4 separate regions of the Homo sapiens genome follow, and regions 1, 2 and 4 are each linked to region 3. Evidence: fine-mapped expression QTL. A gene starts in region 3. Each other region holds a variant in brackets. All regions are shown on one strand. Distances are between the middles of the regions.

Region 1 (7,929 bases), 66 kb after region 3:
AAGCCTGCCGCGTCCCGTGGGGGCCTAGGCTGCGGCGGGCTCCACGGGGGGGCAGGAGTGGGCCGTGATGTCGCTGTGCTTGTACGCCGCCTCGTCCAGGTCCAGCAGCCTCCGGTTGACCTCCAGTGTCATGCAGCCGCGGTAGAACGCGGTGACTGGCGCTGAAGTCACCGGCACATCTGGGCCGCAGGGAGAGAACAACATATCTTAGCTCACCACGTGGCCGGCCCCGCCTGGCCCCCCCACCCCCGGCAGCGCTTGTGGCCAGCCCCGGGTTCCCTCCGAAAGGGCAGGGTTTCCCTTTCTTCTCTAACTTCTCGGTCCCCGTTCGTTTGGCCGCAGACCCGGCAGACAAGCAGGAGGCATCTGCCAGCCTGGGCTCTGCAGACGCCAGCCCTCCCTTCCCCGCTGGGAGCACAGACAGTCCCATCGGTTAAACGTGATCTTCTTCTGTGCCCAGTGAGTCATTCAGGCTGCAGGCCTCCTGGCTCGCTCTCATCCTCTTCAAAGCTCTGTTTATTAAAACTAAGTGGAGTCTGTGTCTGGCAGCCAAGAGAGAAATCCTGCCGTTTGCCGCAAGTGAAAACCTGCGGGCAGCCGAGGACTTGCCGGCTCCCACGTGCCTTTCCGCTGACCCTCCCAGCTCATGGCAAGGACATCCCCGGTCCCAGCCTCTGTGCTGTGTAGCCCATGGGACACGGCAGGACGCCCTGCTGGACATGGGAGGGGCTGGCGGTCACTCTGTTCGCTGCTAACAGCTGCGGTGACAGCCGCGGGTCCCAACTGCAGCCTGGCCCGAGGTCTGCCCAGCCCTCTCCCCCGGGGCTGGTCTGATGGGTGTGGACGAATGCTCCCTGAAGATGCAGGTTCGTGGGGCCTGACTCAGGCCAATGCCGGCCCCCGTACGTGTTTCTCAGTCTCAGCCAATGACCTGACCAGCACCGAGACACCATAATAGCCACTAACGACCCACCTGGACTTCTCCTTCCTCTTAAAACACAAGTCCTCTTCCGCATTCACTACCAGAAACCCCAGCCTGTCCAGGTTAGATCTGGGGTGACCAAGCTGGGCCTCCCTGGAGCTCTTCACCCGGGTTGAGCGGAGCAGGGAGCACCTACCTGGCAGGCCGCCAGCAAAGGTGAGCACGGGGCTCCGCAGGTGCCTCTCGAGCACGGCCAGCCTCTCCTGCAGCTGCGCGGCGCTCACCTCGCTCTGGCCCCTGGTGCCGTCCACCTCCAGGGTGGCCTCACCGTCCCTCAGCGAGACGGTGACCACGTGCTCTTGGCCGTCGCAGACCTTGATCTCCATTAGGGCCAAGGCCGTATGCTCCACGGCCAGGACCACCAGCTGCAGGAGACCGAGGTGTGGTCAGGGCCTGCCGGCCACCCCTACGTGAGCTGTTAGGTCCAAGCTGGTCCTCACAGCTGCTGGCCACCCCTACGCCGCACGCCTGTCTCCGTCCAGGGTTCCCTGCAGCCCTGGGTCTGGATGCTCGCTGACTGTGGATGACACCCCCACCCCACCTGGGGCTCAGCTTCTCTGCACGTAAAGCCAGGGGCCAGCCTGGGAGGCTGTGGGGGAACAAGTGTGGCCCCCAGGTTGGGTGTGAGAGGGTCAACCCCAGCCCCAGGCACCAGGCACACACAAGACCGAGGCTGCACTTGACCAGGAACTGGGGTGGCCCTGATGGGGACCCAGGACCCAGCCCTGCGGTGGCGGCCTCCCAGCCCGGTGGGCACTCACGCTGGCACCACAGCCCAGCAGCCCAGGGGTCGGCTGTTGCTACATAACAGCAGCTGTTTATTCCAGATGCTGAGATTGGGTCTGGCCCTGGTAACGAGCATTTGCATGAACCAAGCCTGTCTGTCGTATCCCAGCAAGCGGGAGGGCTCTGTGGCCCCGGGGTGGGCAGACTTGGAGAACGTGAGCCTCTCTGGTTTGACCCATGTCTCCCTCCTTAGCACACGAGCGAGAGAATAAAAGCTGTTTCTGTCACCTCTTGATTGTTCTGTGGGGAAAACAGCATGAGTCCCCCAGCCCAGGACAGCTGACTTATTGTGAGGACCGGGGGTGGGGGGACCTTGTCCAAGGGGCAGCTGCACTCAGCTCCACCCGGTGTCCCCCACGGAAAGACGCTGTTGGGGGACCGGCCAAGGTCACAGATCCGACTTTTCCAGGGAAATTGGAAAACTGAGTTTGTTGCTGAAATCATCTGACTTAAACACCAGAGACTAATTCAGATTGCTGTGAGCCACCATCTGCCCAACCGAACAGGGGAAAAGCTCCCACACTGTGAGCCGAGTGTGGCTCGCAGGCGCCGGCCCCCTCAGCTGTGTGGCGGTGACCTGGTGTCCAAACAACCCCCGCAGCCCGAAGCGTGGCCCACGCCGGGCTTGGCTCATCAGACCTCTGGTCAGAGGCTTTGGGGGTCCCTGGGGATCCCACCGCGGGCCCCCTTCGTCCCCTGCCAGGGAGTGCAGCCCACGTACCCGTGGGTCGAGCCGGTCAGGACGCCCTGGGTGGCGGAGGCCCTACCTGCTTCTTGAGTTTCTTCGTGGAGTGATAGTCTACCAGTGCCACAGAGAGAGGCACGGCACGGAGGTCGGGGGCCCAGAGCGCAAACAGCACGCCTGTGTCTGCGGCTGGGCGGATGTGAGCCACGACTTCTACTTCCCAGGTTGATTCAGTCCCGACGTCCAGAGGGGTCCGCACTGCAATGAAAGCGGTGCATTATAGGGTGGTATGCACGGTGGAGAGGCCACAGTGAGGTCGGAGCAGGGCCTCGAGAGATGCAGTCCCAGCCGGGGTGGGAAGCTGTGCAGACAGCCCCGGATCTGGGACGTGATGGAAAACTCAACAGACTGGTTCAGATCTTGGCCCGGAGCCCAGAGGCACCGGGGACCCCCAGGCTGTTTCTCCCTGGCCACACCAGTACCCCACTTCCAAATGCCCTGTAGGTGACCACCAGGCCACACAGGCCCGTCTGAGGGGCCACAGGCTGTGCACCATGGGACGCAGGCCTGTCCCTGCCTCCCTCCGATGTCCTCTTGTTTCAGGAGCGCCTGACAGCTCCTTCCTCAGAGCGTGCGTGGCCTCGTGCCTCGCATCTCACCTGCAGCTTTCAGGTAGCAGCACAGGGCCCAGTGGGGGCTGAGAGTTTAAGATAGCATGCGGACAGGAGCTGTCATGAGCACGGTGGTCTGGGGTCTGAGCTGTCAGGAGCACGCGCGGTCTGGGGTCTGAGCTGTCAGGAGCACCCGCGGTCTGAGTTCTGAGCTGTCAGGAGCACCGTGGTCTGGGGTCTGAGCTGTCGGGAGCACGCGTGGTCTGGGGTCTGAGCTGTCAGGAGCACCCGCGGTCTGGGGTCTGAGCTGTCGGGAGCACGCGCGGTCTGGGGTCTGAGCTGTCAGGAGCACCCGCGGTCTGGGGTCTGAGCTGTCGGGAGCACGCGCGGTCTGGGGTCTGAGCTGTCAGGAGCACCCGCGGTCTGGGGTCTGAGCTGTCGGGAGCACCTGCGGTCTGGGGTCTGAGCTGTCAGGAGCACGCGCGGTCTGGGGTCTGAGCTGTCAGGAGCACATGCGGTCTGGGGTCTGAGCTGTCGGGAACATGTGTGGTCTCCCAGGGAGAATGCCACGGCATATCCTCTCCACGCTGAGCCCTCCGTGGACTAAGAAGCCAGAAGAAAAAACTTCCGCCCTGTTTTCAGTGTTTCTATCTCACCCAGAATTCCAAAGTCCTGATAAAGAAGCTGTTTTAGGAAAAAGGACCCCAAATCACTGTGTGTACACATTTGTGACTGGGCGCCTCGCACTGCAGGCCAAGGTTGGGGTCAGAGTGAATTGTGCTGGTTTCCCTGTCTCTTTCCCACGGGGCTGTGTACGCCTGAAACCCACATCGCCTGTCCTGCCTGTCCCTAGCTGGTACCCGCCACATCAGTTCTCAACAACCATTTATGGCACCGAAACACACAAAATCAGAAAAAGTAACAAAAATATTGCAACAGAATCAAAAAGTAACAACAAAAAGTCTCCTGTTTGCCGGTCTTCCCATAACCTGTGAAGGGAGAGATGATGGTGTTCTTTAAAATGGAAGCTCCCAGTCGGGCGTGGTGGCTCACGCCTGTAATCCTAGCAATTTGGGAGGCTGAGGTGGGTGGATCACCTAAGGTCGGGAGTTCGAGACCAACCTGACCAACATGGAGAAACCCCATCTCTACTAAAAATGCAAAATTAGCTGGGTGTGGTGGTGCATGCCTGTAATCCCATCTACTCGGGAGGCTGAGGCAGGAGAATCGCTTGAACCTGGGAGGCGGAGGTTGTGGTATGAACCTGGGAGGTGGAGCCAAGATCGTGCCATTGTACTCCAGTGTGGGCAACAAAGGCGAAACTCCGTCTCAAAAAAAAAAAAAAAAAAAAAAAAGGAAGCTCCTGACAGGAGGCTAGGCACATGTTGGCCATCGGGGCTTCACAAGGGCACCGGCCTCTGCTCTCCCCGGGAAGGTTTCCCGGCTCCACGTGGCCCCTTGCATGGAGGCTGCACAGACCCGGAGATCTGCAAGCCTGAGCCCAGCAGAGTCGCTGCAGAGTGAGCCAGGCCAGTACTACCATTCCCAGCAAGTCTCCTCTGTCTTGTAAGAGACGTTACTGGTATAGTTTGAGATTCACTGGAAATGCATGGAGCTGTAACTGCTTCTGTCCGGATAGACCAAAAAGGGCCGGCAGACGCGGCCGGCAGTCACTGGAAATGGCCCCTGTGATGCCTGCATAAGGTTACCCCTGAGAAATGTGTATGATATTAAGTGGAAAAAGGATTTAAGCATTTCATATGACATGATTTCGTGTCAAACATTATGATGCTCTAGATTTGGAAGTCCAAAAATCAAGACTGAGGGAGAACGCGTGTGCACAGTCAGTCCAGCCAGTGGCAGATGGCGCTTTTCTCAGATGCCTTTCCTGACACGGTCACGCTTTTGACACC[C/CG]GGGGGGAGACGGTGACACTGGATCTGGCTCAGGACGGGGCAGGACCCTCCCCTTTGCTCCGCGTGGATCCCCTTGAACCTGGGGTTCCTGCTGGGTGCTTGAGGGCCGGCAGCCCTGAGATCTGACGGAGGGGGCGCTGCCTGCCCTCTGTGCGTGTGGGGGCTTCACCATAAACGGCTCGGTGTCCAGGAATAGGGCAGGGCTGTGGTGCCCCAGTGGGGCCCACGTGGGGTGGGAATGTGAGGCAGGGTGGGGCCGAGCAGTAACACTATCCTCACAGCAGCACCCCCGGAGCCTGCACTGGGGAGGGCGGCAGCGTGGCGTCACAGGACTGGGCCAGCAGCTCACATCCACCCTGTCCTCCCTTTTTCAGGCCTAGGTTCACTGTCCCCCAGGCAGCTTCACGGCTGTTTTTACACACCTCCCATTGTAGCTGTCTCACCGGGTCATCGGTGACCACGGTGTCCACCATGTTACCGAGAGCTTCTCTGTGCCCCTGGACGAGTCCTAAGGCTGTGCTGTCTCCGGACTTTCTGCAAAGGACCCTGTAAGGCTCCCAGCCTCCCCGGCCTCGCAGGCACCTTCTCTCCCCGGCCTCCCGGCGCTGGCCTCGCAGGCACCTTCTCTCCCCAGCCTCCCGGCGCCGGCCTCGCAGGCACCTTCTCTCCCCGGCCTCCCGGCGCCGGCCTCGCAGGCACCTTCTCTCCCCGGCCTCCCGGCGCCGGCCTCGCAGGCACCTTCTCTCCCCGGCCTCCCGGCGCTGGCCTCGCAGGCACCTTCTCTCCCCGGCCTCCCGGCGCCGGCCTCGCAGGCACCTTCTCTCCCCGGCCTCCTGGCGCCGGCCTCGCAGGCACCTTCTCTCCCCCGCCTCCTGGCGCCGGCCTCGCAGGCACCTTCTCTCCCCGGCCTCCTGGCACTGGCTTCGCAGGCACCTTCTCGGCACATCTCTCTCATTTCTTCTTCACTGGCTGACTCTGAACTGAGTGACCTGCATGGCCATCCTGAGAGGTGGGCCTCTGCCCGCACCTCCGCCCACCCCGCCCACCCATCCCTGCCCCGGAACCGGAGGAGCCTCAGCTTGTCCTGACGCTGCCATCTGAGGCCGTCTGCTTGCTTTCAGCGTATGCCTGTCTGAAGGTGCAGCCACAGCCACCCCAACGGTAAGAGCCAAGACTTACTGTAGTCCAGGCTGTAGAAGGCGAAGCCGCTCCCGGGGTAGAAAGAGCCTCTCTCCGTCACCGAGAAGCACTGCATCCTCGTGTTCACTTTCACCGTTTCCTGGATGGTGGTGTCTTCTCCGTTCAGCCAGTTCCAGCTCCTCATGCAGCCATCCAGACGAGGGTTTATCTGGAAAGGCAGAGAAATCTCCGTGGCTTCCTGGGAGCGAGAAGCCCCATGCCGGATGCCCCAGTCGGTGGGTGGCGCCTTCGCGGCCCTGGTATGTGCAGCTCTACGGCAGAAACGGGCCAGTCCCATCGGTGGTGGCCATTTCACAGAAGGTTTCTTCACTTTACACAACGCCTCACTGCAGAATACCTATTTCCACTGGTGTATGCTCAAGAACTAAAGGTTCATTTTAAAGCTAGGAAAGGACTGAAAAGGCCATGTGGGTCTAAGGTCAAAGAGTATGGATTGTTCAACCATCCAACACTCATGTGAATTATTCAATATTCAATATGGCTGTGGGCAAATCAGGGCAACCCCCTTATCTGTGAAACGAGGAGGGTCCAGCCAGGCAAAGTCCCGGCACCAGGCTGTCTGTGGGCCTGGGAAGCAGGTGCCCCTCACAACACCGAAGGTCCCGGCACCAGGCAGTCTGTGGGCCTGGGGAGCAGGTGCCCCTCACAACACTGAAGGGGTGGCTTCAGCACAGGCACTGCCGACACTCAGCACCCAAAGACGCGAAGACATGCGTGCCTTTCTCCTGCCTGGTGTGGAAGTGAAAATACCCAGGATGACGGCTTAGACGTCAGCACGTGGGGGCTGGAGACACAGGTCGGGGGCACGGGCGTGTGCTGTGCTGAAGGGGAGAGAAGGCGGGACCTGGAGCAATGGCCCACACTGACCGCCCATCATGGCTGTTTTCCCCTTATGAGACTCACGGCAGAGTTACAAAACCCAAAATGTTCTTGGAAATTGTCCAAAAAAGTTTACTGTTCTGTTAAAGAATAATTTCGGCCGGGCGCGGTGGCTCACGCCTGTAATCCCAGCACTTTGGGAGGCCGAGGTGGGCAGTTCACGAGGTCAGAAGATCGAGACCACGGCGAAACCCCGTCTCTACTAAAAATACAAAAAAATTAGCCGGACGTGGTGGCGGGCGCCTGTAGTCCCAGCTGCCTGGGAGGCTGAGGCAGGAGAATGGCGTGAACCCGGGAGGCGGAGCTTGCAGTGAGCCGAGATCGCGCCACTGCACTCCAGCCTGGGCAACAGAGCAAGACTCCGTCTCAAAAAAAATAATAATAATTTAATTGTGTCTTATCTCCATTGAAAAATAGACAACTTTATTATCAATTCAGATGAAAACTTAGGTCTCATAAAAAGAGATGGTAAAATTAATGACATAGCTGTACGGCGACTTTGTCAAACTCTAGGAAACCTTTCCTTCCTCTAGGTCCTCCTCACACCTGGTTAATGGTAAACACAGGGCAGGGTGTGACTGAGGCTTCCTGACACCGTTCCCGGGATCCCAGCACACGGCGCGTCTACACAGGGACAGGTACAGTACTCACAGGCTGCACGAGGTCCTTCTCATGGAAGGGAATACCTCCCACGGTCAGGTTCAGATGATACAGTCCTCGCTCCGGTTGGAACAAGTCCCCGGCCACCGCGATTTTCATGACAGCATCCCTGTTGACCTTGATGACCAGATTCCGCGCCAGCTCCTCAACAGAGATCTGAAGAGAGGCAGCGCCATGAGAAAAGATGGGAGTGCACGTTCTGAAGGGGCTCCC
Region 2 (7,929 bases), 52 kb after region 3:
CACACGAGGGCTTACGGGATGTGGGGGTGGTCCTCCCTGTCACACGTGGGCTTACGGGATGTGGGGGGTGGTCCTCCCCGTCACACGCAGGCTTACGGGATGTGGGGGTGGTCCTCCCCGTCACACGCGGGCTTATGGGATGTGGAGGGTGGTCCTCCCTGTCACACGCAGGCTTACGGGATGTGGGGGGTAGTCCTCCCCGTCACACGCAGGCTTACGGGATGTGGGGGTGGTCCTCCCTGTCACACGTGGGCTTACGGGATGTGGGGGGTGGTCCTCCCTGTCACACGCAGGCTTACGGGATGTGGGGGGCGGTCCTCCCCGTCACACGCAGGCTTACGGGATGTGGGGGTGGTCCTCCCTGTCACACGTGGGCTTATGGGATGTGGGGGGTAGTCCTCCCCGTCACACGCAGGCTTACGGGATGTGGGGGGCGGTCCTCCCTATCACAGGAGGGCTTACGGGATGTGGGGGGTGGTCCTCCCCGTCACACGCGGGCTTACGGGACGTGGGGGGCACAGGGGCAGATCCACTTCATCCCCATGGTGCTCCATCCTCATCCACCCTGGGGCTCTGGGTTTACGCAAAGGGTGGATGTTCCCCTCTTCCTCTGGGGAGGCCTGGGGCCCTCAGATGGCCCAGCCAGCCTTTGTGCCAGGCCAGCATGTGTGGGAGCTTAATATACGCACGCTGATAATTGGATTTCAGAGATGGCAAATCAGATGAGGCTCATGTGCTCCTCAGAAGAACAATGGAGGAGGGGCCCTGCTTCCACAGAGATGGAGAGAAAATATTCAGGGTGTTCCATGGAAGTCGTTAGCAGCAGAAAATACTCCCACTTGAGACAGTGGGGGATGGGGAACAGTGACTTGGTGGGGGAGGTTTTGAGCAGTTAATAAAAAGGACAATTTAAAGAGATCACCTTCCTTGCACCCAGCAGCTTTGCCAGGCATGAAGTGCAGGGGAGGACGTGGCATCACAGCAGAAGATGAGTTCCTGCCCCGTTACTAAGAAACATGCCCTCCCTTCCCCTGTGAGATTACTCGTGGGCAGGGCTTGTCCCTAGGGGGGCCCTGTCATTCAGTGGTTAACCCCGTGGTCCCAGGGTTTACTCTGTGGTTCCTGGGGGTTTATTCCATGGTTCCTGGCGGTTTACTCCATGTTCCTGGGGGTTTACTTTGTGGTCCTGGGGGGTTTACTCCATGGTTCCTGGGGTGTTTACTCCGTGGTTCCTGGGAGTTTACTCCATGGTTCCAGGGGTATTTATTCCGTGGTTCCTGGGTGGTTACTCTGTGATTCCTGAGGGTTTAACTCTGTGGTTACTGGGGGTTTACTTCGTGGCTCCTAGGGGTTTGTTCTGTGGTTCCTGGGGGTTTACTCCGTGGTTCTTTGGGGTTTAACTCTGTGGTTTCTGGCGGTGTAACTCTGTGGTTCCTGGGGGGGGGGTTACTCCATGTTTCCTGGGGGTTTACTCCGTGGTTCCTGGGGGTTTACTCCTTGGTTCTTGGGGATTTATGCTGTGGTTCCTGGGGGTTTGCTCCATGGTTCCTGGGGGTTTACTCTGTGGTTCTTGGGGATTTATGCTGTGGTTTCTGGGGGTTTACCTCTGTGGTTCCTGGGGAGATTACTCTGGTTCCTGGGGCTTTACTCCATGGTTCCTCGGGGTTTACTCTGTGGTTTTTGGGGGGAGGTTATGCTGTGTTTCCTGGGGGTTTACTCTGTGGTTCCTGGGGGTTTACTCCATGGTTCCCGGGGGCTTAACTCTGTGGTTCCTGGGGGGAGGGGTTACTCTGTGGTTCCTGGGAGTTTACTCTGTGGTTCCTGGATGTTTACTCCATGGTCCTGGGGGTTTACTCCATGGTTCTTGGGGATTTATGCTGTGGTTCCTGGGGGTTTACTCTGTGGTTCCTGGGGGTTTAACTCTGGTTCCTGGGGGTTTACTCTGTGGTTCCTGGGGGTTTACTCCATGGTTCCCGGGGGTTTAACTCTGTGGTTCCTGGGGGGAGGGGTTACTCTGTGGTTCCTGGGAGTTTACTCTGTGGTTCCTGGATGTTTACTCCATGGTTCTTGGGGATTTATGCTGTGGTTCCTGGGGGTTTACTCTGTGGTTCCTGGGGGTTTAACTCTGGTTCCTGGGGGTTTACTCTGTGGTTCCTGGGGGTTTACTCCATGGTTCCCGGGGGTTTAACTCTGTGGTTCCTGGGGGGAGGGGTTACTCTGTGGTTCCTGGGGGGAGGGGTTTACTCCGTGGTTCCTGAGAGTTTACTCCATGGTTCCTGGGGGTTTACTCCGTGGTTCCTGAGTTTTACTCCGTGGTTCCTGGGGGTTTACTCCGTGGTTCCTGAGTTTTACTCCATGGTTCACTCGGTGGTTCCTAGGGAGTTACTCCATGGGTTCCTGGGGTTTATCTGTGGTCCTGGGGTTTACCCCTTAGTTTCCTTAACTGCTCATCTGCTGTGAAGAAGAGTGGGTGCTACAGAGTTGGAAGTTGGGAGCTCCCAGCAGACTTGAGAGAATGTTCCCTAGTGTCTCACTCTGTCGCCTGTGGCCAGAAACCTGTGTGAGTTTCGGGGGAAGAAAGAAATGAGGTTGGCAGGTGTCCCTGAACCACTGGATCCCATGAGCCTGGGCTGTCAACCTCAACATTGCAGTCCCTCTGAGGAAGGGCCCCATTCTCAGCCTTACCTACACCTGTGCAGAAATTCTGCTGTCAGGATCCAGAGGTCCTGCTAGCTCCCAGGGCGTCTGCAGTGCAGAGCTCTCCAGGGAGAGGCTCAGACAGGCAGCTGGCTTCTCTGGGGATGCTGAACACGCAGGCTCAGACAGGCAGCTGGCTTCTCATGGGACCCTGCAGGCTGGGGCAAGAGGAGCACAGAGCACATCTGGTAGCTTGGAGTTTGAAAAACTCTTCCTGTGTTATTTCTTAGAAGGAGTTTGTTTGCTTTATTTATTTAAAATTTGATTAGAAGTTCCCCCTAGAATTTAAGGGGAAAAAAAGAAAAGAATTAAGATGTGTGTTAGCAGTTGGAGAAAAACTAGAATGTATCAATTTAAAATCTGTGCCGTTCTTCGCTTTTCTGGTCTCAGAATTACTTGGGTGGGTCTATGTGTGTTAGTCAGGGCTCTCTAGGGAAGCAGAGCCTATGGGAGAATACAGGTACCTACATATGAAGAGAGAGATCAATCCATCGATTCTGAATGACTGGCTGATGACTGTGGGCTTCAGGTGCACAACCACAGGGAGGGGGCAGGCTGGAGACCAGGGAGGGTGACGCTGCCCCGGGAGTGCCTAGGCCACTGGGGCAGAGTCCACTTCTCCTGGGGACCACAGCCTCTTTCCTTAACGCCTTCAGTGGAGAGGAGGGGCCGTCCGTGTCCAGGGGCTGAGGCACTGTACGCAAGGGTGTCAATCACACCTGAAGATGCCTCCACGGCAACACCCAGATGCGTGTGTGAGCCGCTGAGTCAGCCACGGTGACACTGAACCAGCCACACGCTGCTGGACGTGTGGACGTGTGGGGTTCATACGTGGGGCCTTTCCCAAATATGAAGAGTTGGGTGAGCCCAGGGGCCCCAGGCCTGGTGGACCCTAACTGTTGGTTTTGGAGTCAGGTCAGAGGCTCGCTGGCTGTGAGGAAG[T/C]GGGATGTGGTCTGAGGACACCCTTCCTGGGGCGTCCACCCCCTGCCCCATGCAGCTGTGGAGGCCAAGGTTGTGCCAGTGAGGCCCCGGCCACCCTCTCCTGTTCTGCCCCGGGCTGGGGCTGCTCCTTCTGGTGGCCCTGGGTCTGTGGGGTGGGGGCCCGTGAGAGTGGTCCTGGGTCTGTGGGGTGGGGGCCAGTGAGAGAGGTCCTGGATCTGTGGGGGGGGCCGGTGAGAGAGGTCCTGGGTCTGTGGGGTGGGGGCCCGTGACAGTGGTCCTGGGTCTGTGGGGGCCCGTGAGAGTGGGCCTGGGCCTGTGGGGGGGCCGGTGAGAGTGGTCCTGGGTCTGTGGGGTGGGGGCCGGTGAGAGAGGTCCTGGGTCTGCGGTGGGGGAGGGGGACGTAAGAGTGGCCCTGGGTCTCCGGGGGAGGGGAGGGGCGTGAGAGTGGCCCTGGGTCTGTGGGAGCCCGTGTGAATAGCCCTGGGTCTGTGGGGGGCCCGTGTGAATAGCCCTGGGTCTGCGGGGGGCCCTGTGTGAGTGGCCCTAGGTCTGAGGGGGCCTGTGTGAATAGCCCTGGGTCTGCGGGGGGCCCATGTGAATGGCCCTGAGTCTGCGGGTGGCCCTGGGTTGGCGGGGTGGGTGGGGAGCGTGTGAGTGGCCCTGGTATATGTCAGGCTTCCCTGTGGTCCGGCACGGGGTGGTCTCACCTGCTAACCCAGGGCCCTCTCTGTTTATTGCAGCCCTGCAGCCGCTTCCCAGTTGCGCCCTCCTCTGCCCTGGCTTCGTCTGAGGACCTGCAGCCCCCTTCTCCAAGCAGCTCTGGCTCTGGGCTTCCCGGCCAGGCTCCACCGTGCTACGCACCCACCTACTTTCCCCCGGGGGAGAAGCCACCCCCCTACGCACCCTGATAGAGGCGTGGAGTAAAAGATAACTTGTTTGTTTTTTTTTTTAAAAAAAAGGCAGCCTCTAGAAATCCCGCTTCTGTGGCCAACCTCCTAGAGAACCCGGGAGAATGTTCCAGAAGTCTGTCCCCTCCTTTCCTCCCTGGGCACACTGGTGAGGGAGGCTGGAACCAGGCAGGGAGTGGGGCCCTCCAGACCCAGGCTGGTGACACCTTGGCTTGGGCTCTGCTCACATCAAATGGCGCTGAAAGTTCCCACCCGGCCTCCTCCTCTGAGAGCAATTGTTCTGGTGTTTTCACATCCCTTAATTAATTAGCTATTATTATGATTTTGCAAAGACAGTGCAGCCCCGGCCTCCCTGCCTGTGTGTTCTTGTTTGTGGACATGTGTTGTGCGTTACACGTTCGTGTGTGCATCTGTGTCCTGGAGAAGCGCAGGGCAGAAGCCACCCGCCCCTCGTGCTGTGCTCCTGACGTATGCCAGGAAGGGAAGGACGCTTCGGCTCCAACGCCCAGCGCTGTGTCTAACCGCCTGTGAGTTGTTAGAATCCAGGGGCCCGGTTGTCTTTCCCAGCCCCGGATGCAAATCTGCCTGGGCCACTGGCACGAGGGTCTTCCCCTGAGCTGTCTCCCAGCTACGGCGCCTGGGCTTCCGCTGTCCTTCCGCGGCTTCTCCCTCACCGCACCTTGTCTCAGGACCCCTGGCCGCTGGGATGGTGGGGGACGGTGTTTCGGGGTCCTTTGGCTCAGGGTCTGGGGCCGCAGCACTCCCTGTGGAAACCAGCTTAGCTCCCCGCGGGCCCAGCATGCACCTGCCGGGCACACCTGGGGAGACGGGTGAGCACGCCTGGGAAGCAGCAGGTCCCGGGTGGGTCACAGGCCCCGGGTGGGTCACAGGACAGGTCTCAGGTGGGTCACAGGTCCTGAGTGGGTCACAGGTCCCGGGTGGGTCACAGGCATCCCGGGTGGGTCACAGGTCCCGAGTGGGTCACAGGCCCCGGGTGAGTCACAGGCCCCGGGTGAGTCACGGGTCCCGGGTGGGTCACGGGTCCCGGGTGGGTCACGGGCCCCGGGTGGGTCACGGGTCCCGGGTGGGTCACGGGTCCCGAGTGGGTCACGGGTCCCGGGTGGGTCACAGGCGCCCCAGTGACAGGAGTTCAGGATGCGCCACCCCAAAGTAGCCGAAGTCTCTTGAAAAGTGTTGGATGTGGGGAGAGGCTTTCTCTGAACTCCTGAAGTCAGATCCTCAGGGAACCAGGGACTCCCAGGGCGGGAGGGCGGGCGAGAGGTGATCCCATTGCTCCCCAGACGTGCCACAAGACACCAAGTCGCCGTCTCTGCTCTGTGGGCCGCTCACGGTTCCCCAGTCACTCCCTCTCCCCTCGGAAGCTGGCGCCTCCAGGCCTCACCGCTCTCAGGGCCTCACGTCCCTCCCTGCAAAGCCCCCCGTGCCTACGATAAACAAGTACCGCTCTTCTCCCGTGTGGGTCTGAGGTCTCCAGCTTACTTCACGGAACAGTGCCCACCTGGGAGGTGGAGCGGGGACTTTCTCCCCTGCCCAGTCCTGGATCTGGGAGAAAAAAGATAAGGTGGAGGGGAGCCACACTCGTGCAGACACAGCCTCCTGCCCCCTCTGCTGCCCGGGAGCCTCCCTCTGTCCGATGGAGGGTCTCACACAGCCTCTGCCCCCTCCGCTGCCCGGGAGCCTCCCTCTGCCCGACGGAGGGTCTCATCCTGTGTCCAGCGCTCCTGGGCAGAAGGCCCACAGCGCACATCCACACATGAACGGTGGCTGGCTGGGCCCAGGGGCCCTAACGGGCCTCTGAAAGGCCTGCAGCCAGCTCTGGTCTGTGAACCCGCCACTGCTTGTCATTTTTATCTTATAAAATCCAGCCTCACAAGCTTGCTGTCCAGGAGAATGTGGTCTTGGCCTCTCAGGGCTGACTGGCCTTGAACCAGTCCGGGAGGTCGGGCACGAGCCGGAGGTGCGGCGTCCTGTCTGGAAATCACCGCCCAGTTCCTCCAGGGCTGTGGGTGCCTGGCTCCGAGTAAGAAGCTGAACAAGCAGCAGAGACCAAGAGGTTTCTGGAGCGCCGGGAGATGCACTCACGAGCGCCTGTGGGGGAAGAAAAGTGTGCCACGGATTTCCCGAGTCCCCAGGGCTCTCACTTTACCTCAGGGAAGGCTCTATGGGCGCCGATGGTGCCGTGGTCTTGTGTGGGCGGTTCCTGGGCACCCTGGAGCTCGGGCTGTGCCCCCGAAGCTGCCTGGTGCAGGCACCAGCACCTCTTGGTGTCCTAGGGGTGCGAACAGCAGAGAAGCTGAACTGCAGGTCTGGGCAGGGAGTCTATGCCCCCTGGAGCTCTGGCCAGCAAAGTCACAGGAATAACCCTCCTTCCCCTCATGTCAGCCCTCGGTCGCAGGGTGCGGTGTGGGGGCATCAGAGTGCTTCCCCGAGGCTGCACTCACCAGCTTCCCCCAAACACAACATCGATCTTTCCCGACTTTTAATCTTGTCTAGAGTCAAAAGCTGTTCAAAAATATTCAACTCCAAGGTCAACAGTTTTGTTCTTGCCACAAAAATGTCCTTATCCTTTATCCCAGCCACAAAGAATGTGAACAATTTGACTCAAGGTTCGTGGTGGCTGGAGGGTCCCCCAGGTCCCAGGGCAGCTCCCACCTGGCGCAGGGCTCCGGCCAATGCCTGGCCTGCAGTGTGGGCGGCGGCTGCTCTCGAGGTGCACCTGTCTCATGTGGACGGATCCTGTCTGGGGCCACCAAGCTCTGCCAGCCTGAGTCACGGTCTGATGAACCCCCTCTCTGGGCTCCGCTGGGGCCTTCTGATCCCAGCCTCCTCTGCAGGGATGGGCTCCCAATCCCGCCCTCACTTGGTTCCCATGCACAGCCGAGGTCAGTGAGACCCTGGAGGCCGCGGGAGATGGGGTGGAGGGGATGGTGGGGCAGGGGGTGCTGGGGGGTTTGGGGGTGCTGTGGCCCCGGGGCAGGGGGTGCTGGGGGGTTTGGGGTGCTGTGGCCCCACCTGCACTCCCTGCCTCACTGGGACAGCACAGGAGACAGGCTTCTCCTGCAGCTCAGAGGTGGGGGCCTAGTGTAGCTGCAGGTTGTGACTGAGGAGGGCAGGGTCAGAGCATTGCCCTGGGCAGGGGTCCGTTGAGACTGGCCCCACCTTATTAGCTTGGGACCTTGGGTTACAGGGAGTCTCCTCCTGCCTCAGTTTCTACATTTCACACAGCAGCACTGCTCACAAGAGCTCCCAAGCAGAGGCAACTACTGAGTGGGGGAGGGACACAGTCCGTCCACATGGGGCCAACGGCCACAAAGAGAGGAAGGGACATGGGTGACGGTCCGTCCACGTGGGGTCACCGGCC
Region 3 (7,929 bases):
GCCAGCGCTGTTGCTTCCCTACCTCACTGGATGTTGCAGGAATGGGTTAGAGATCTGAGGACCACGGAAAGTTAGGGGTGAGGGGAGGATGAACCAGTCATGGGGAACCCCGGTATCTCTGAGTGAGTAGAGAAGGAAGGTGGTGCTGGCGGGAAGGAAGGACAGGTGCTGGCTGTGGGTTCCAGCCACTTCCGAGGTGCAGGCCTGGGGAGAGGAGGCAGGTGGGGCCTGCTCAGGGAGCCCCTGAAGAAGTTCTGAGTTGGCTGTGCTCCAGTTGGCCCCTGCACATTCCCCATGCCAGGCAGGCGCTTTTTCTCCTCTTTAAAAAGGCATTCCCTGAGCCTGGTGGAATGAGACAAACATGGAAATCCCTGGGCTGCTCTCAGTGGTGGAAGAGGTTGGGCACCCTGGCGGCTTAGGGTGGGACTCGGCCTGCAGAGCCAAGCAGGCGCCCTTTTTCCTCCTTTTCTTTTCCTTTCGTCCATTTAATTTTTAAAATATAACAGACTGTGGCCGGGCACAGTAGCTCTCGTCTGTAATCCCAGCACTTTGGGAGGCCCAGATGGGAGGATCACTTGAGCCCAGGGGTTTGACATCAGCCTGGGCAACATGAGGAAACCCCATCTCTACAAAAAGTATAAACCTTAGCTGGGTGTTGCAGCACACGCCTGTGGTCCTAGCTACTTGGGAGGCTGAGGTGAGAGGATCGCTTGAGCCTGGGAGGTGGAGACTGCAGTAAGCTATGATCATGCCACTGCACTCCAGCCTGGGCCACAGAGCCACAGCATGTCTCAAAAAACAAAAAAGTGACAGACTGCAAACAAAGGCACACCTGGGTAGAGGATGCACAGGAGCTCCTTGCACTATCCCTGCAAACCACCTTTAGGTTTGAAAATAGATAAAAATAAAAAGTTACAAAAAAGTAATCATCTATTTTAAACATCCAGAAAAGTATAGAGAATAATATAACATCCCTGTCCACACCATCTAGCCTTAATGGTATCTCAACATTCCCCCTTTTTTTACAAGTCTTTTAACTTTTTTAAAGAAAGAAGATTTCACAAATAGAGTTTAAGCCCCTAGACATAGTTCCAAAGCTGTTCAGCTTGTCCACCCAGACAGAGAATCACAGTTCTGGATGAAGCATGCACTCTCCCCCAGCATGTTCTTCTACTTTACTTACACAGTATCCATGCATCTACACACATGACTCACGGTGTCCATGTATCTGCACACACATGACTCATGGTGTCCATGTATCTGCACACACAAGGCGGTGTCCATGTATCTGCACACGAGACTCACGTCCGTGTATCTGCACACATGAGTCACGGTGTCCATGTATCTGCACACACGAGACGGTGTCCATGTATCTGCACACGAGACTCACGTCCGTGTATCTGCACACATGACTCAACGTGTCCGTGTATCTGCACACAGGACTCACGGTGTCCGTGTATCTGCACACAGGACTCACGGTGTCCGTGTATCTGCAAACATGACTCATGGTGTCCGTGTAATCACCTCCTACTGTTTCATCATATCCTATAACCAGTTTCTCAGCTTCCATTCTGCTATCCTACAACTACTCTCCAGTAATCCTATGTGTAGGACCCTCCAATAACCCCCACATCACTCGGAGCAAAGGCCAGAGGCCCTGCGGCTCACCCCTGATGTCCTCCACCTGGTCCCCACAAGCCTCTGGCACCCTGGTCTCCTTGCTGCTCCCCCTGGGCCTGGATGGCTCCACCCCAGGGCCTTTGCATGGAGGTTCCTTTTCCTCAGACCCTCTGCCCCAGATGTCTGGGTGAGCAACCACCTCCACGCCCTCAAGCTTGGTCTTCAACATCACCTGTCAACAAGCTCTCTTTTCACTACTTAAAAACCACAGCTCCCTCCCTCTCCCACACTATACTTTCTATTTTGTTTCTTTACCTCTCTTTCCTTTTTCTGTGGCCTGCATTACCTGGCTGTGTATGTATGTATGTGTGTATGTGTGTGTATGTATAAGTGTGTATGTGTGTGTATGTGCATGTGTGTGCATGTATGTGTGCATGTGTATGTGTGTGCATGTGTGTATGCATGCATGTGTGTATGTATATGTGCATATGTGCATGTATGCACGTATAAGTGTGTATGTATGCATGTGTGTATGTATGTGTATGTATGTGTGCGTGTATGTATGCACACATGTATGCATGTGTGTATGTGCATGTATGTATGCGTGCATGTATGTATGCACACATGCATGCATGTGTGTATGTATGCATGTGTATATATGCATGTGTGTGTATGTGTGTATGTGCATGCATGTGTGTATGTCTGCATGTGTGTATGTGTATATGTGTGTGTGTATTCCATAGCATGTTGCCCTCTGACATGCTGTGCATTTTTCTTGTTTATTGTATTATTATTCATGGCCTCACTTCCCCACCAGGATCCTTGTTTACGTTGCTCATTGATACATCCCAAGTACCTGGAACAGTGTCTGGTATATCGCGGATGTTTAGTAAGTCTTGAGAGGCTCACTGAGTGAACAGTGTTAATTTTCATGGTTTAAAACTTTATATAAATGGTACCATACTCGCTGCCGTACTTGCTGTCGTACTCGCTGCCGTACTGTGCACTTGCATTTTTGCTCCGCGTTCTGTTTTTGGCATTTATCCACATTGATCCATGTAGCTCTCATTTATTTTAACTGCCATGTGGTATTTCGCTGTATATGCCCATTTCTTTATCGCTTCTCCCCGTGTTGGATATTCAGGGTGTGTCCGGTGCTTTGGACACACAGTGTTGTGAGGAATATTCTGTACGCATCTTCTAGCACATGCATACTTCTTGTGGTAGTTTCTCTCTCACAGTGGATGGCCTATTAGAATGACTAGGGAATTCTTAGCTATTAGTTTGTTCCCAGAAGTTCTGGTTCAATTGATCTGGTCTGGGTTCAGTGCTGCAGAAATGTTTTTTCTTTTAAAGACATTCCTGGATGACTTTAACGACAGCCGGGGTTGAGAACCACGGCTCCTGGCTCGAAGGAGCAGATCTATGTTTGTGTTCTTGGGCATATCTAGAAAGAGATATGCTTTCTTTCTGGCTTGTCATCTACTTGCTTCAATTTTCCTAAAGGTTGCTTTCAAAGTGGTGGCACCATGCGTGATCCCAGCGGTGAATGCAGATTCCCACGTTTTCATTAACATTCTTTAAGTTGTTTGACCCTTGGGGTTTTCTGATAGGATGAGGGTGAAACGCATCCTCTTGTTCCCACAGCGTTCCCCTAATTCCGGGGGCTGAGTTTATTGATCGTTCAAGCATCTTCTTTTGTGACGGGACCGCTGATGTCCTTGACTCAAAGATGTTAAAAATACGTTTAGAAGGATCTTTATTTTTTCCTGCTGCTGTACGAGGCACCCTTTCTGGCCCCGTGTTTCCTTGCCCTTCTTTCCAGCAGCAGATTTTACTCAGAACAACTTCAGTGCTGTGGACACAAAGACGCAGGCCTTGGAGAGGCGGGTCAGCCCTGCCTCGGGGCTGCTGAGTGAGGTGCCAGATGCGTTTGTTCCTCATTTACTCATTTGCGTTTGTTCCTCATTTACTCGTTCCTCGCAGACTGGGTTGTAACACCATGTACCACCCTCTGAACCCAGAGATCAAGGGCTGGCTGGCCCTGTAGCCCCAAGGAGCTCCGTCACCGGCCAATGGGGAGGCGAACCCGTGGTGACCCACTCAGCGGCACCGCCAAGGGCTGAGCGTGGCGCCAGCGGCGGAAGGCCCGGGGTCACCGTCCCAGGCCGGGGCTCCGACCCCGAGTCCGCAGGGTCCTCTCCAGGCACCTTCCATCTGGGGTCTGGCTTCCACTCCCGGCCGCGGCGTCCTGATTTCCAGAAACCAGGCGGCCGCTGGAGGGGAGAAGGGGGAGCGGGCGCAGCGGGGGAGGGAGGAGAAGAAACGCCGGAGAAGGGAGAGTAGAGCGAGGAAGGACGCGAGGCGGGCGGAGCGCGGGGAGGTGCAGGGGGCGGGGAAGGGGCGGCGCCGCGAGGGCGGCTCCTGGCGGCGGGACTGTGGCTGTGGCCCCGGGAGAGCCGGGTGGGGCCTCGGGATGCAGCCGCCGGTGCCCGGGCCCCTGGGCCTGCTGGACCCCGCAGGTGAGCGCGGGGCTGGGGGCTCGTCTCGGCTCCTGCGGGGGAGCGTGGGGACCCCGGGGCTGGGACTACAGGTCCCCGGCCGGCCCGGGCGGAACCTGCGCGGAGACGCGGCACGGGGTCTGGTCCCTCCGCCTCCTTCGAGCTCTGTCTTTGGAACACTTTGCATTTCGCACTGGGGTCGGGCGTTCGTCCTACCGGTTCGTTCATTCATTCTCTCTCCCTGTCTCTCTCTCTGTCTCTGTCTCTGTCTCTCTCGCTCTTTCTGTCTCTGCCTCCTCAGTCTTTGCCTTTCTCTGACTCTGTGTCCGTTCCTCTTGGCCTCTCTCTCCCTGTTACGTTTTATTATGAGGAACAGGCGCCCCAAAGTGCGCTCCTTCCCCATCTCTTCCGTTTATTCCAACCTACACCATTTTCCGGGAAAACTTCGTTTGGAAGAGCGAGGTAGCCTTTTCCTGTTTGAACGTGCAGAGGCGCTCACAGAACTGGACAGTGTTGCTTGGTTTCGGCTCGCCCCTCTCTCGTGTTTCTCCCCGGTGTGTTCACGGAATCTCCAATTCTTCCACTTCCCAGACCAAGCCCGCTGCAGCCTCGGAGCCAGGCAAAGGCTGGGAAAACAGGAAACCTGTTGCGTGTTCACCAGTTCGCAAGCCGGGCTCGGGGGCTCTGCCGGGAAGTGGCCAGGACTGGAAGGATGCCGGGTGTCTTCCTGAGGGGGAGAGGGCTGGGCAGATTTCAGAACAAAAGAGAAACAGAGTTCCCTAGAAAGTGAAGCCCTGACGGCTGGAGGGAGGGATGGAGTGGTGTCTAGGGGGCTCTGCCGCTCCCTCAGAAATAATCCAACACAAACTTCTGGGGATTAACCTCACAACCCTTTTACTGCGGCATCGTTCGGAACCGGACGAATTACTGTTACTTAAAATAATCAAATAATTTGGCTTCTTTCTAAAAGAAACCACTATATGCCTTCCAATCTAAAGCAAAATGCTCTATGGTCAAATGTATTAATGTGGATTAGTCTATTGGTGTTTAATAATGATAACTATTATTATTATTTATTAACTAGTTTTATCATTATTAGAATGCCTTAATGTTTAAAAATAGCATCTGACTTAGATTTTCTTCTGACAAAGAACTTTAAACCTTAAAACAATACTTGGAGCTGGTCTTTTTAGTATATGAAACATTGGTGTATCTGGGTAGGATTATGGGTCTTTTTGTTTGGAGCTGGTCTTTTACTAAAATGTATAAAGCATTGGTGTGTCTGGGGTTGGATTATGGTCTTTCTGCTTTGGTGTGTCGGGGTGGATTATGGTCTTTCTGCTTTGGGGTATCTGGGGGTGGGTTATGGTCTTTCTGCTTTGGGGTATCTGGGGGTGGATTATGGTCTTTCTGCTTTGGGGTATCTGGGGGTGGATTATGGTCTTTCTGCTTTGGTGTGTCTGGGGGTGGATTATGGTCTTTCTGCTTTGGGGTATCGGGGGTGGGTTATGGTCTTTCTGCTTTGGGGTATCTGGGGGTGGATTATGGTCTTTCTGCTTTGGTGTGCCTGGGGGTGGATTATGGTCTTTCTGCTTTGGTGTGTCTGGGGGTGGGTTATGGTCTTTCTGCTTTGGTGTGTCTGGAGGTAGATTGTGGGTTTTTCTGCTTTGGGGTATCTGGGGGTGGACCATAGTCTTTCTGCTTTGGGGTACCTGGGGGTAGGATTATGGGTTTTTCTGCTTTGCCCTTCTTTGTTCACTACCCTGGGCATGTGTAAAATCAGGACGAAAGAGGAATTGACGGCTGAGTGATTACAGTTTTACCTGGGATTGTTACTTGGACACCATGACTGGTGTCCCCACATGATTAAATGGAACTCACTCTTCTTTTTGGGCGTTCCAGGTCCGGCTGGCAGGAAGGCCGGATCTTAGAACCCTTCCAAGCAGTGCCACCTCCCATGCTTTGTGACATTCCCCTTCCTGGCTCTGTGGAGTAGAGGAAATGGGTCTGAGGGGCAGGAAGAACCTGACCTCCAGCCTCGCGTGTCTTCCAGGTAGGACCTGGCGTGGGCACAGGCTCATGTGGTTCAGCTCCTCCAGCTAAGGCTGGGGAAGGAGCCAGGAAGGGGAGAGCAGGTGGGATGGGAGAAGTGGGGGCTGGTGGGGAGTGACAAGGTGATATTCTGAGATATCCTAGATGGGCTGCACCTGGGGAAGACTAGAATTAGAAAAATCAGCGCACTTGATAGCAGAGAGGTAGCTGTTGGCCCCTTCAGCTTCACATCTCAGAACTCCTCCTTGCAACTCCAGTGGGAGAAATGCTGGTTAAGAATAGCCGCTACGCCGTCTTAAAGTTCACACCACCCTGATGATTAGCATATGCATTCCATTTACAAAAACCTATATGAGAGCCCACGTATCGTGTCTCACTGGACGCTTATCACAATCTCAAGAGGTGGGTGAGCAGGTGGTTCTCATGATTTCCATCCTACAGGTCAGGAGACTGAAGTGCCTTCATTCATTCCGTACCAGGAGATGTGTCTATGTCCTCATCTGAGCCCCGGGAACCGGCGACAAACAAGAGACAGAGCTCTTGGCTCTCATAGGGTTCTCTTCTCCCAGGCTCAGGGAGATTAAATGGCCGCCCAAGACCACACAATGGGTCTGGACAGACCCAGAATGGTTTGGGTCCAGTCCCTGTAAGCTGCCTCTGCAATAGAAACCTATTGGTAGATATTTTAATTAATAGTTGGGGCACTTAGGAGCACTTTAATTTTCACAGTGCGTGTAATAACAGTATTTCCGGGACAGGAAAAAAAAAAAAATCAAGGAAATTATTCAGGTGATTTTAATTATCTTTCTCCTAAGTGAAAGCCCCTTTCTCTTGAAAATCTGACCTTATAATTATCTCTTATGCTAATTATAAAGATATCCCACCTTCTTTTCTTGAGTTTATTTTTTTTCTCATTTTTATGCTGTGTCATGTATTTATAGAATGTGTTTAAGGTTGGGAGTCTTCTTTTTGTTATCTCTATTATATCTGGAGTCAAAATATCACCATTGTGTAATTGAATGAGATGATTTGCAACCATTGCTCCCAGTGCCCCATGTAAGTTCTACTGTCTTTCTAGACTTGTATAATCTAGGAATCTGTGATAGGAATGCTGATAAAAGGGTGGCTCATACCTTCTGCTTTTTATTTTGTAGCAGATGGGGGGGAAGTTAGACTCAGGAAAGAGGGGTAAACATAGCAAAGTTAGGTTGAAAATGGTTTGTAGGAGGATTTACGTGGTTTCAGAGGAGATGTGTCTAACTCTTCGCATAGTAATTAACAAGTCAGCATGTTACCGATTGACTTGACAAGGTCAGTTAGCCCAGTGGGTCTTGCTGGGCCCCCACTCTTCATGCCAAGGAACCGAGCAGAGCTTCCAGCTTTAAGAACCAGAATCCAGTCACAGGGTTCCTGACAGACGGACGCCCACAGGAGGCTGGGACAGGAGCCCCACGGAAGGTTCTACCTGTGGGTCGAAGCAGACGCTGAGTCATCTGGTTAACTATTTTGAGCATAATATTATATGCATGCAGTGCATTTAATTAAGAAAAATCGCACAACAAAATCCTTTGAGAAGGACAGCGTTTGTCTGATAATTTTCTCAAATACTTAGTCCCATAAAATTTAGTTTTAGAAATTGTATTGCTCTTAAAATACATTTAAACAGTCAAAAGATTGGAATGGGAGCCTAAGGAAAAGCAGGAAAGGCTGAAGCGGGAATTGTGTGAGTTGAAGGCACCTAGCATTTGGCTGCATT
Region 4 (7,929 bases), 41 kb after region 3:
ACACAACACACAGAGCACACAGCACACACACAACAGAGCACACAGCACACACCACACAACACACAGAGCACACAGCACACAACACACAGAGCACACAGCACACACACAACAGAGCACATAGCACACACCACACAACACACAGAGCACACAGCACACAACACACAGAGCACACAGCACACACACAACAGAGCACATAGCACACACCACAGAGTACACACCTCACACACCACACAGAGCACACGCCTCACACACCACACAGAGTACACACCTCACACACCACACAGAGCACATACCACACAGAGTACACACCTCACACCACACAGAGTACACACCTCACACCACACAGAGCACACACCTCACACACCACACAGAGCACACACCACACAGAGCACACACCACACAGAGTACACACCACACACACCACAGAGAGCACACACCACACACACTACACACACCACACAGAGCACACAGCACACACACCACACAGAGCACACACCACACACACATACACACCACACCACGCTCTTTTCACCTCTAAATGAACAGGTTTTCTCTAAAGTCGCAGGCCAAGGAATCGTTTCTGTGTCCTCCTGAGGTGCGTCCTCAGCCTCCGGTGGGCTGCGCCATCCCCCCTCCTCCCTGGCTGGGCTCCTGGGTGGGCTCTCGCCATCTGGGCGTCAGCTGGTCCCCGGGAGCAGCCGAATTGCTTGTCATGAACTCTCAGACCAAACCTGTGATTGTTTCTCCCTCTTTTTCCATAAATCACACTGAAAGGCACTGAAGGTTGGTGTTAGGCCTTTGTCTGCCCCAACGGTTTCATTATATGAAGGCAAGTGTGGGAGCACATTCACAAAACACACGTGCGTGCGCACGCATGCACACACCACGGCCCACATGCTCACACTCGCGCGCACACACACACTCCCACGGAGGTGCGTCATGGGAGCTTTCTCAGCGGGTGGCTGGGTGACTTGCTATTCTATGGCTTCCAGACGGTGGTTTCCACTGTGCTCCAGGCGCCCGTGGCCGTGGCCCCGCCGAGGAGCAGGGTCCAGTCTCTGACCGCAGTCGGGGGTGTCCCCAGGTTCCGGACCTCGGGCGCCTGTCCATTCTGGAGGGCCACGCGGGGCATGCATCTAGGCAAGTGTGGGAGCCTCTTGGTTAGAAACAAAGCAGGGCCCCTGGCCGGGGCCTCCCAGGGCTGACTTTAGGACGGATGCGCAGACAGCACTCACTGGAGCTCAGATGCCATCGAGGAAAATGTGGCACTGCCTCGTGTGCTGCTGAGGAAGAAGACAGATGGTGAATTACAGCTCTAAGGGCGTCATATGGGGAGATGCGTGCCTTCCAACTGTTGAGAGAGGCCGAGGACACCGTGCTGCTAGGCCTCTGTCCCCATGGGGTTCCGGCACACCGCCCTCCCTCCCAGCAGGAGCCTCTGTCCGTGGGGTTGGGGTGCACTGCCCTCTCTCCAGGAAGGAGCCTCTGTCCCCTTGGGCTACTCATTGTTACCTGTGGTCTCATGTCTGTCCCCTCAGGGGAAGATAAACACCCAGAGACAGAGACTTGTGTCTGCTTCCTCCATTGCTGTGTCACCTAGAACGCATCCGGCCATAATAGTACTTCACCAGTGGGGGCCCAAAGGACCGATGAGTGATTCTCATTCTCATCTGTTGCAGTGTTACTAGTGGTTTCTAATACTTTTCTTGGTTCAGAACTAGGAGCCTTTGAGAAATACTAATAAAACTAAACGTGGGCAATGTGACCCTAGCTTATTTGCAGGTGATGCAGTTTTGTGGCATTTTAGTTTTGGTACTTCCTGCTGTCCTCTACCATAGCAATTATAAGCACTTTGCAATGGTCAGTTTATGGGTCTGTCTTCTTCACTAGTCTATAAATCCCTTAAGGGCAAGAACTGTGTCTCGTTATCCTTACCATTTGGCACTGTGTCTGCTCCATGAATGTTGCAGATGGTCGGATGGATTGATAGTTGGATAGGGCCACAAATGGGTGTATGGCTGAATGGTTGGATGGATGGATAGAAGGATGGATAATGGGTGGATGACAGGAATGGATGGATGGGTGGATGTGGATGAATGGAAGTATGGATGATGGATGGATGGATAGAAGGATGGATGATGGATGGATGGATGGATGTGGATGAATGGAAGGATGGGTGATGGATGTGGATGGATAGAAGGATGGATGATGGATGGATAGATAGGAGGATGGATAACGGATGATGGATGGATGGTGGACAGATGGAAGGATGGAAGTATGGATGACAGATGGGTGAATGGATGGATGTGGATGAATAGAAGGATGGATAATGGATGGATGATGGATGATGGATGGACAAAAGGATGGATGACAGATGAATGGATGGGTGGATGTGGATGAATCGAAGGATGGATAATGGATGGATGATGGATGGATGGTTGGATGATGGTTGGATGGATGGATGTGGATGAATGGAAGGATGGATGATGGATGTGGATGGATAGAAGGATGGATGATGGATGGATACATAGAAGGAGGGATAATGGATGATGGATGGATGGATGGAAGGATGGATGACAGATGGGTGGATGGATGGATGTGGATGAATGGAAGGATGGATAATGGATGGATGATGGGTGGATGGATGGAAGGATGGATGGATACATGGATGGATGGATGGATGGATGAAGTATGGATGACAGATGGGTGGATGGATGGATGTGGATGAATGGAAGGATGGATGATGGATGCATTATGGATGAATGAATAGATAGATGTAGAGGATGGAAGGAAGAATGGGTGGATGCACAGATGATTGATTGGATGATTGGATGGATGGTTGGGTGGGTGGGTGGATGATTGGATGGTTGGAGGGATGAGTTTATTGGTCTGAAATCCTTCTTGCTACCTTCCTAGTAGAAGAGACAATATTTTCTTTTATGAAACGATGCAGGAGCCTAACACCTGTGATGTGGGGTGGTAGGGATGCCCCTCAAAAGGCCAAGCACCTGTCTCCCTTCTGCTGCCCTTGTTGACTGATGGAGAATATGCATGGCCCGAGGTACCCTCCCATGGGGCTTTCTGCTGTCTGGCCTCCTGGATGCAGCAGCCCAGCTGCTCTGCAGGGAGCGTGGAGTCTCCCATCTTGTGTTCTGTGTCTGGGAGGCTCAAGTTGGTGTTGGCCTTGGTCCTTGAGGCCCTGAGCCTGAGACCCACAGGCCTGAAATTGCCTCTGGCCTCTCCCGCCTGGAGGCACCTGTTTTATTCCATCTGTGTTTATCTGTTTCTCTAGGAACCGAGGCCCCTCACCACGGGAAGATGCCAGTTTTACTCCAGTGGGGTGGGGTACTTGTACGATGTCTACCAGACAGAGGTGAGCAGGAGCACTGAGATTCATGTGGGTTTTGCTCAGCTAACCCCGCCGACCCCACGCGGTTTTCCCTGCACATAGGCGTGGTCTGAATATTTTGATTCTAATAGTTCCTGGGGGTCACCCCTGCAGCTGGTGAACCGTTGATGCCCCCTGTGTTTGGGACCTTGACATTTCGATGTGCTGTATTTCACTCTGGAGTCAGAGTTCTGGACTTGCTTCATTAAATCACAACAGTCTCAGAGTGCACGTGTCCAGTTCTGTATGGCTCTTCCAATTAGCATTTTTCTAATTTAATTATTGCAATAAGAAGCAAGGATAATACATTTACAGTGTCCGAGAAACTTCTGGATTTCCCTGAGCCACCGACAGCGGCAGTGTGACCTCATTTCTCTTTCCAGGTGAGTGAGATGCGGGGAGTAATGACCCGCGGGCGGCCGCCGCCTTCGCCAGGACCGTCGGAGGGCACAGCTCTGTGACGGCGCTCTCTGTGTGTCTCGCACCTGCCCTGTGTGGATTCCTGGCTTTAACTAAACGCAGCCTCTCATCCTCAGCACGCGTGTCAGAGGAGGAGGAGCTGGAGGCCCTCTCAGTGGCCAGCACCTGCCAGCTTGTCTGGGACTCTCCAGCAGCTGCCGGGAGGCATCGTGTGTGTGTGTGTGTTTATGTGTGTGTGTGTG[G/T]GGGGGGGTAGGCAGGAGGCGTCCCGTGTGTGTTTAGGGGGGAGGTGTCCTGTGTGTGTATGTGTATGTGTGTGTGGAGGTGTCCTGTGTGTGTGTGTGGGGGGGGGTAGGCGGGAGGCATGCCATGTGTGTATGTGGGGGGGAGGCATCCTGTGTGTGTGTGTGTGGAGGTGTCCTGTGTGTGTGTGTCAGGGGAGGCGTCCTCTGTGTGTGTGTGTGTGTGTGTGTGTGTGTGTGTGTGTGTGTTGGGGGGTGTCCCCTGGCCAGGGCTTTCAAGGTTGTCACACAGAGGTGGCAGGTGTCTCTTCTGAGGCTGCCAGTGCTCAAGCCTGGGGGGAGAGCGCCCTGGGACGGGGCCTGTTCTGCCGCCCTCCGGGCTCTCAGGCTTCTGTGCACCCCACGCCGAAGGCCTCCTGGGCTCTGTCCTTCTGCCCACGCACCCTGATATTTCCCTCTGCTCCTGGGATCATGGAGAAGCAAGGCCTCTCCTCTGAGCCCCGATTATCCGGCCTCTGGGACCAGCCTGTGCCCCTGACCCCTCCTGCAGGAAGGGTCCTGGCCCCCGAGCCCCCAAGCCTCTGTGTCTGGAGTCGGGGGAAAGTCGGGGGAGGCAGCTGCTTGGCTGGGCCTCAGTGGCCGCTCCCAGCTCCCATGAGGCAGCCCTGCCCTTGGTGGGGTGGGTGAGGTGGTGGGCACCGGCATGTGACCTGACAAGGCCTCTCTGCCCCAGGTCACCTGTCACTCCCTGGACGGCAAGTGCCAGCTGAAGGTGAGAAGCAACACCTGTTACTGCTGTGACCTCTATGCCTGCGGGAGGTGAGGGGCACCGGGGACCCCCATATCTACACCTGCGGGAGGTGAGGGGCGCTGGGGACCCCCGTATCTACACCTGCGGGAGGTGAGGGGCGCTGGGGACCCCTATATCTACACCTGAGGGAGGTGAGGGGCGCTGGGAACCCCCGTATGTGCCTGCAGGGGTGAGGCCTCCATCCTTCTGCTCCTGACATCACCCCCCCCACACCCCTGCACCTACATCGTCTCCTTTACTCCTTAGATGTTTACATGAGGAAAGGACATTGAGTCCATTTCACAGATGAAAAGACAGAGGCTCTGAAATGTTGATCTGCCCAAGAGGACACAGCCCGTGTGTGTCGGGCGAGAGTTTAAACCTGGCCTGGCCTCTGAGGCCCCAGGCATGGCCCCCTCTTGGGACAGGGGCCCGTGACCCCGACGGCCTTCCCATCCTGGCGTGAAGACAGAGATGGCTCAGCCGGGGCCCAGACACCCGTCCTGCCAGGCCATCGAGGCGGAGGGGCGGGCCCGCCAGGCCCAGTTGCCGCTCTTTGCCACTGTGGGCCCCAGGTGGGGAGCCTCACAGGCCAATCCCATCAGACATAGGTTTGATCTCCCAGAGCAGTGCAGGGATGGGCGTTGACTGGGCTCCAGCCCTGATTTCCTCCCCCAGCCCTGCAGGGCTCAGGTCCAGAGGACACAAGTTTAACTTGCGGGTGGTCACTTGCCTCGTGCGGTGACGCCATGGTGCCCTCTCTGTGCAGCGCAGAGCCCTCGCCCGCCTACTATGAGTTCATCGGCGTCAGCGGCTGCCAGGACGTGCTGCACCTGTACCGCCTGCTCTGGGCCTCTGCAGTTCTGAACGTCCTGGGCCTGTTCCTGGGCATCATCACCGCCGCCGTCCTGGGGGCCTTCAAGGACATGGTGAGGCCCCTTGGTGGGACCCCCGCTGCTCACTGGGAGCCGGGGCTCCGGGTCCATTTCCCCGGGGTGGGCTGGGGGGCCTCCAGCCCTCACTTTACAGATGGGGCACTGAAGCCCATGCGTCTGTCAGCAGGGTGTCAGGGTGACAGCTGGCGTGCACCGACTCACCTCGGGGCCGTCCTGTCCCAAGCCTGTCACAAGAATCACCTGATTTAATCCTTGCCTCCCCGCTGAGGTGGGCACAGCCGTCCCCAAGAAACAATGTTCAGCTCCAAGAGGGAGGCCCAGCCCTTGTGCACTAAGCTCCCATCATTAGCAACTGCCTGGGGCTTCAGATGGGCAGGTCTGGGCTGGGGCTGAGCTGATGCCTTAGCAAACCCCAGAGGCGAGACCCATACAGCCAGGATTGGCCTGGGCAGGAGGAGGGAGGGAAGGGGCCCCTCGCGGGAGGTGGGCTGGACCCATCCTGGAAAGGCCGGCCCTCGCCCGGGAAACCACAGGGAAATCACTGGCCCGGGCCGGATGTCCTCTCTCTTCTCCCTCCTCTGCCCTCTCCTGGCGCCTGTTTCAAACCAGATGTTCTCGTGGTGTGCGGCCAGCAAACCCCGCCCCCTGAACTTGCAGAGAAGCTGTAAGGGATGGGCAGCCAGGAGTGAGGGAGCCCCAACCCCCAGAGTATCCAAACGGCAGCCCAGGGACGAGGGGCGCCCCCTCTTGCACCCACATGAGGAGGCCTGGCAGCACCAGGCAGACGCACATCATGCAGGCCAGACCCGGCCCAGCGAGGCAGCGAAAACACTCCTGAGCGGCTTCTCCATGCCCTATTCGTCCCAGAGGCTGTCCATGACTAAAAATTAGCTCAGCTGGGAACCCTCCTGCCATCTGCTTCTCAGCTCCTCCTTTTCTCAACACTTTTGTGCTTCCAGACAAAACTGGTGAAGCTGAGAGTGACCCTGGCATCCCGAGGTCCAGCCCTCTGGCTCCCCACCCAGTGGCCCCCCAAGCCCCACCCTGGGCCCCCAGACGCCCGCACACCAACACAAGACAGGCACCTCCCAGGGGTCCTTGCTCTGTGGTGACAGCCGGCCGGCCCCTGCGGTGGGAGCGGGAGTCTGGGGTCGGGAAGGGTCTCTGCCGGGATCTCGCGGGCTCCGGGCGCCTTTGGCGTCTCCTCGGTGCAAGCTTCTCTGCCTCGGCAGCTCAGTGTCTCCTCTCAGCGGCCGTCCCAGGAGGAACTGCAGCCGGATTGTAGACAGGACACAGAAACGCTTGTCTGGTGCAGGCGCCATGCTCGCCACACAGGCCCGGGGTGTCCAGGGTTTTCCGGAAGGGGCTCGTGTGTTCATTAAAGCCCGTGATAAAATGCTGGAGTGCAGGATCAGGAACAGGTGATACCTCCAGGGCCAGCCCGCAATGCAGAGCCACACCGGCTCCAGGAAGTCTTCCTCGAACCCAAAGCTCAGGGCTGCAGAGCAAGGAGAGGACTTGCTAACCTTCACACCCACCAAGCAGGCCCTCTTGTGAGTTTAACTGATTTTGCCATTTAAACATTTTGTTAAGGAATGAAGATGCTTCCTTCATTCCTTAACATTCCAAGCTGGACGTGCCCTTCGTAGACGAGGGCAAATTACTTGTGATGGGTGCGTGGGAGGCACTTAACGTGCCGGCAAGGGCGGGCGGCTGAGCCAGCCTCTCAGGGGCCTCCTCCGCGTGTGACTCCGTGGCCCCCGTGTTCTCTGCTTTCTGTGCACTCGCCCCGGCCCCATCCTCAGGCCACCGCCAGCTCAGAGGCCTCCCCACCCCTCTACCTGTCAGAACTGCAAATCTCCTGCCCCTCCCTCACGGAGCACGACCCTCCATGCCCATCCAACCTCCCAGGCCCACCTCGGCTGCCCCCCTGCTCTCTGCAGGGTCTGAGGCAGAAGCACGGCCTCCTGCACATGTGGACCAAGGACCAGCTGCCCAGAAGGCCCTGCCCCTTCCCACCTTCCAGTGCCCGCTGGGCAGGGGGCTCCCTCCCAGCCCCAGGGGTGCGGGCAGCACCGTTGTCTGAGGACACCTCAGGCCTGGGGTCATCACCCTGTCCCGGGGTTTTCACCGTGTCCCCGGGTTGTCACCGTGTCCCCGGGTCGTCACCGTGGCCAGCCCCTCGCAGCGGCTCTG

Direction of the effects. Positions count from the first base shown, and alleles are read on the strand shown. Sizes are in standard deviations (SD) of each study's normalised expression. Not every link is listed here.
With allele C in place of T in region 2, the expression in monocytes after triphosphate RNA of the gene that starts at base 4,053 in region 3 is higher (large effect, 0.77 SD a copy in Kim-Hellmuth 2017).
In carriers of allele G in region 4, the expression in iPS cells of the gene that starts at base 4,053 in region 3 tends to be lower than with T alone (moderate effect, 0.56 SD a copy in HipSci).

What was found. PIP is the estimated chance that this variant, and not a neighbour inherited with it, causes the effect.
Region 1: its variant is fine-mapped to the expression of TMEM255B in blood mononuclear cells (TOPMed, PIP 0.97).
Region 2: its variant is fine-mapped to the expression of TMEM255B in monocytes after triphosphate RNA (Kim-Hellmuth 2017, PIP 0.95).
Region 4: its variant is fine-mapped to the expression of TMEM255B in iPS cells (HipSci, PIP 0.95).

The regions. Positions count from the first base shown.
Region 1 is chr13:113,820,840-113,828,768 of GRCh38, forward strand. It overlaps GAS6 (growth arrest specific 6), which reads right to left. Exons shown (of 15, transcript NM_000820.4): 11 at 7,708-7,872; 12 at 6,157-6,325; 13 at 2,536-2,711; 14 at 1,119-1,347; 15 at 1-179. The coding sequence ends at 25. The region is part of intron 1 of GAS6-AS1 (GAS6 antisense RNA 1); the gene reads left to right. Among named protein-coding and RNA genes, the nearest start is that of GAS6-AS1, 9.2 kb to the left of the region's middle. RefSeq lists enhancers at 1-303, 853-1,401. The variant C/CG (reference allele first, on the strand shown) is at 4,978.
Region 2 is chr13:113,807,357-113,815,285 of GRCh38, forward strand. It overlaps TMEM255B (transmembrane protein 255B), which reads left to right. Exons shown (of 9, transcript NM_182614.4): 9 at 4,380-7,929. The coding sequence ends at 4,547. Among named protein-coding and RNA genes, the nearest start is that of GAS6-AS1, 4.3 kb to the right of the region's middle. The variant T/C (reference allele first, on the strand shown) is at 3,640.
Region 3 is chr13:113,755,174-113,763,102 of GRCh38, forward strand. TMEM255B (transmembrane protein 255B) reads left to right here and starts at 4,053. Exons shown (of 9, transcript NM_182614.4): 1 at 4,053-4,142. The coding sequence starts at 4,097. RefSeq lists enhancers at 3,213-3,714, 4,271-4,772.
Region 4 is chr13:113,796,047-113,803,975 of GRCh38, forward strand. It overlaps TMEM255B (transmembrane protein 255B), which reads left to right. Exons shown (of 9, transcript NM_182614.4): 5 at 3,293-3,373; 6 at 4,781-4,866; 7 at 5,607-5,766. Among named protein-coding and RNA genes, the nearest start is that of GAS6-AS1, 16 kb to the right of the region's middle. RefSeq lists enhancers at 5,114-5,988, 7,694-7,929. The variant G/T (reference allele first, on the strand shown) is at 4,051.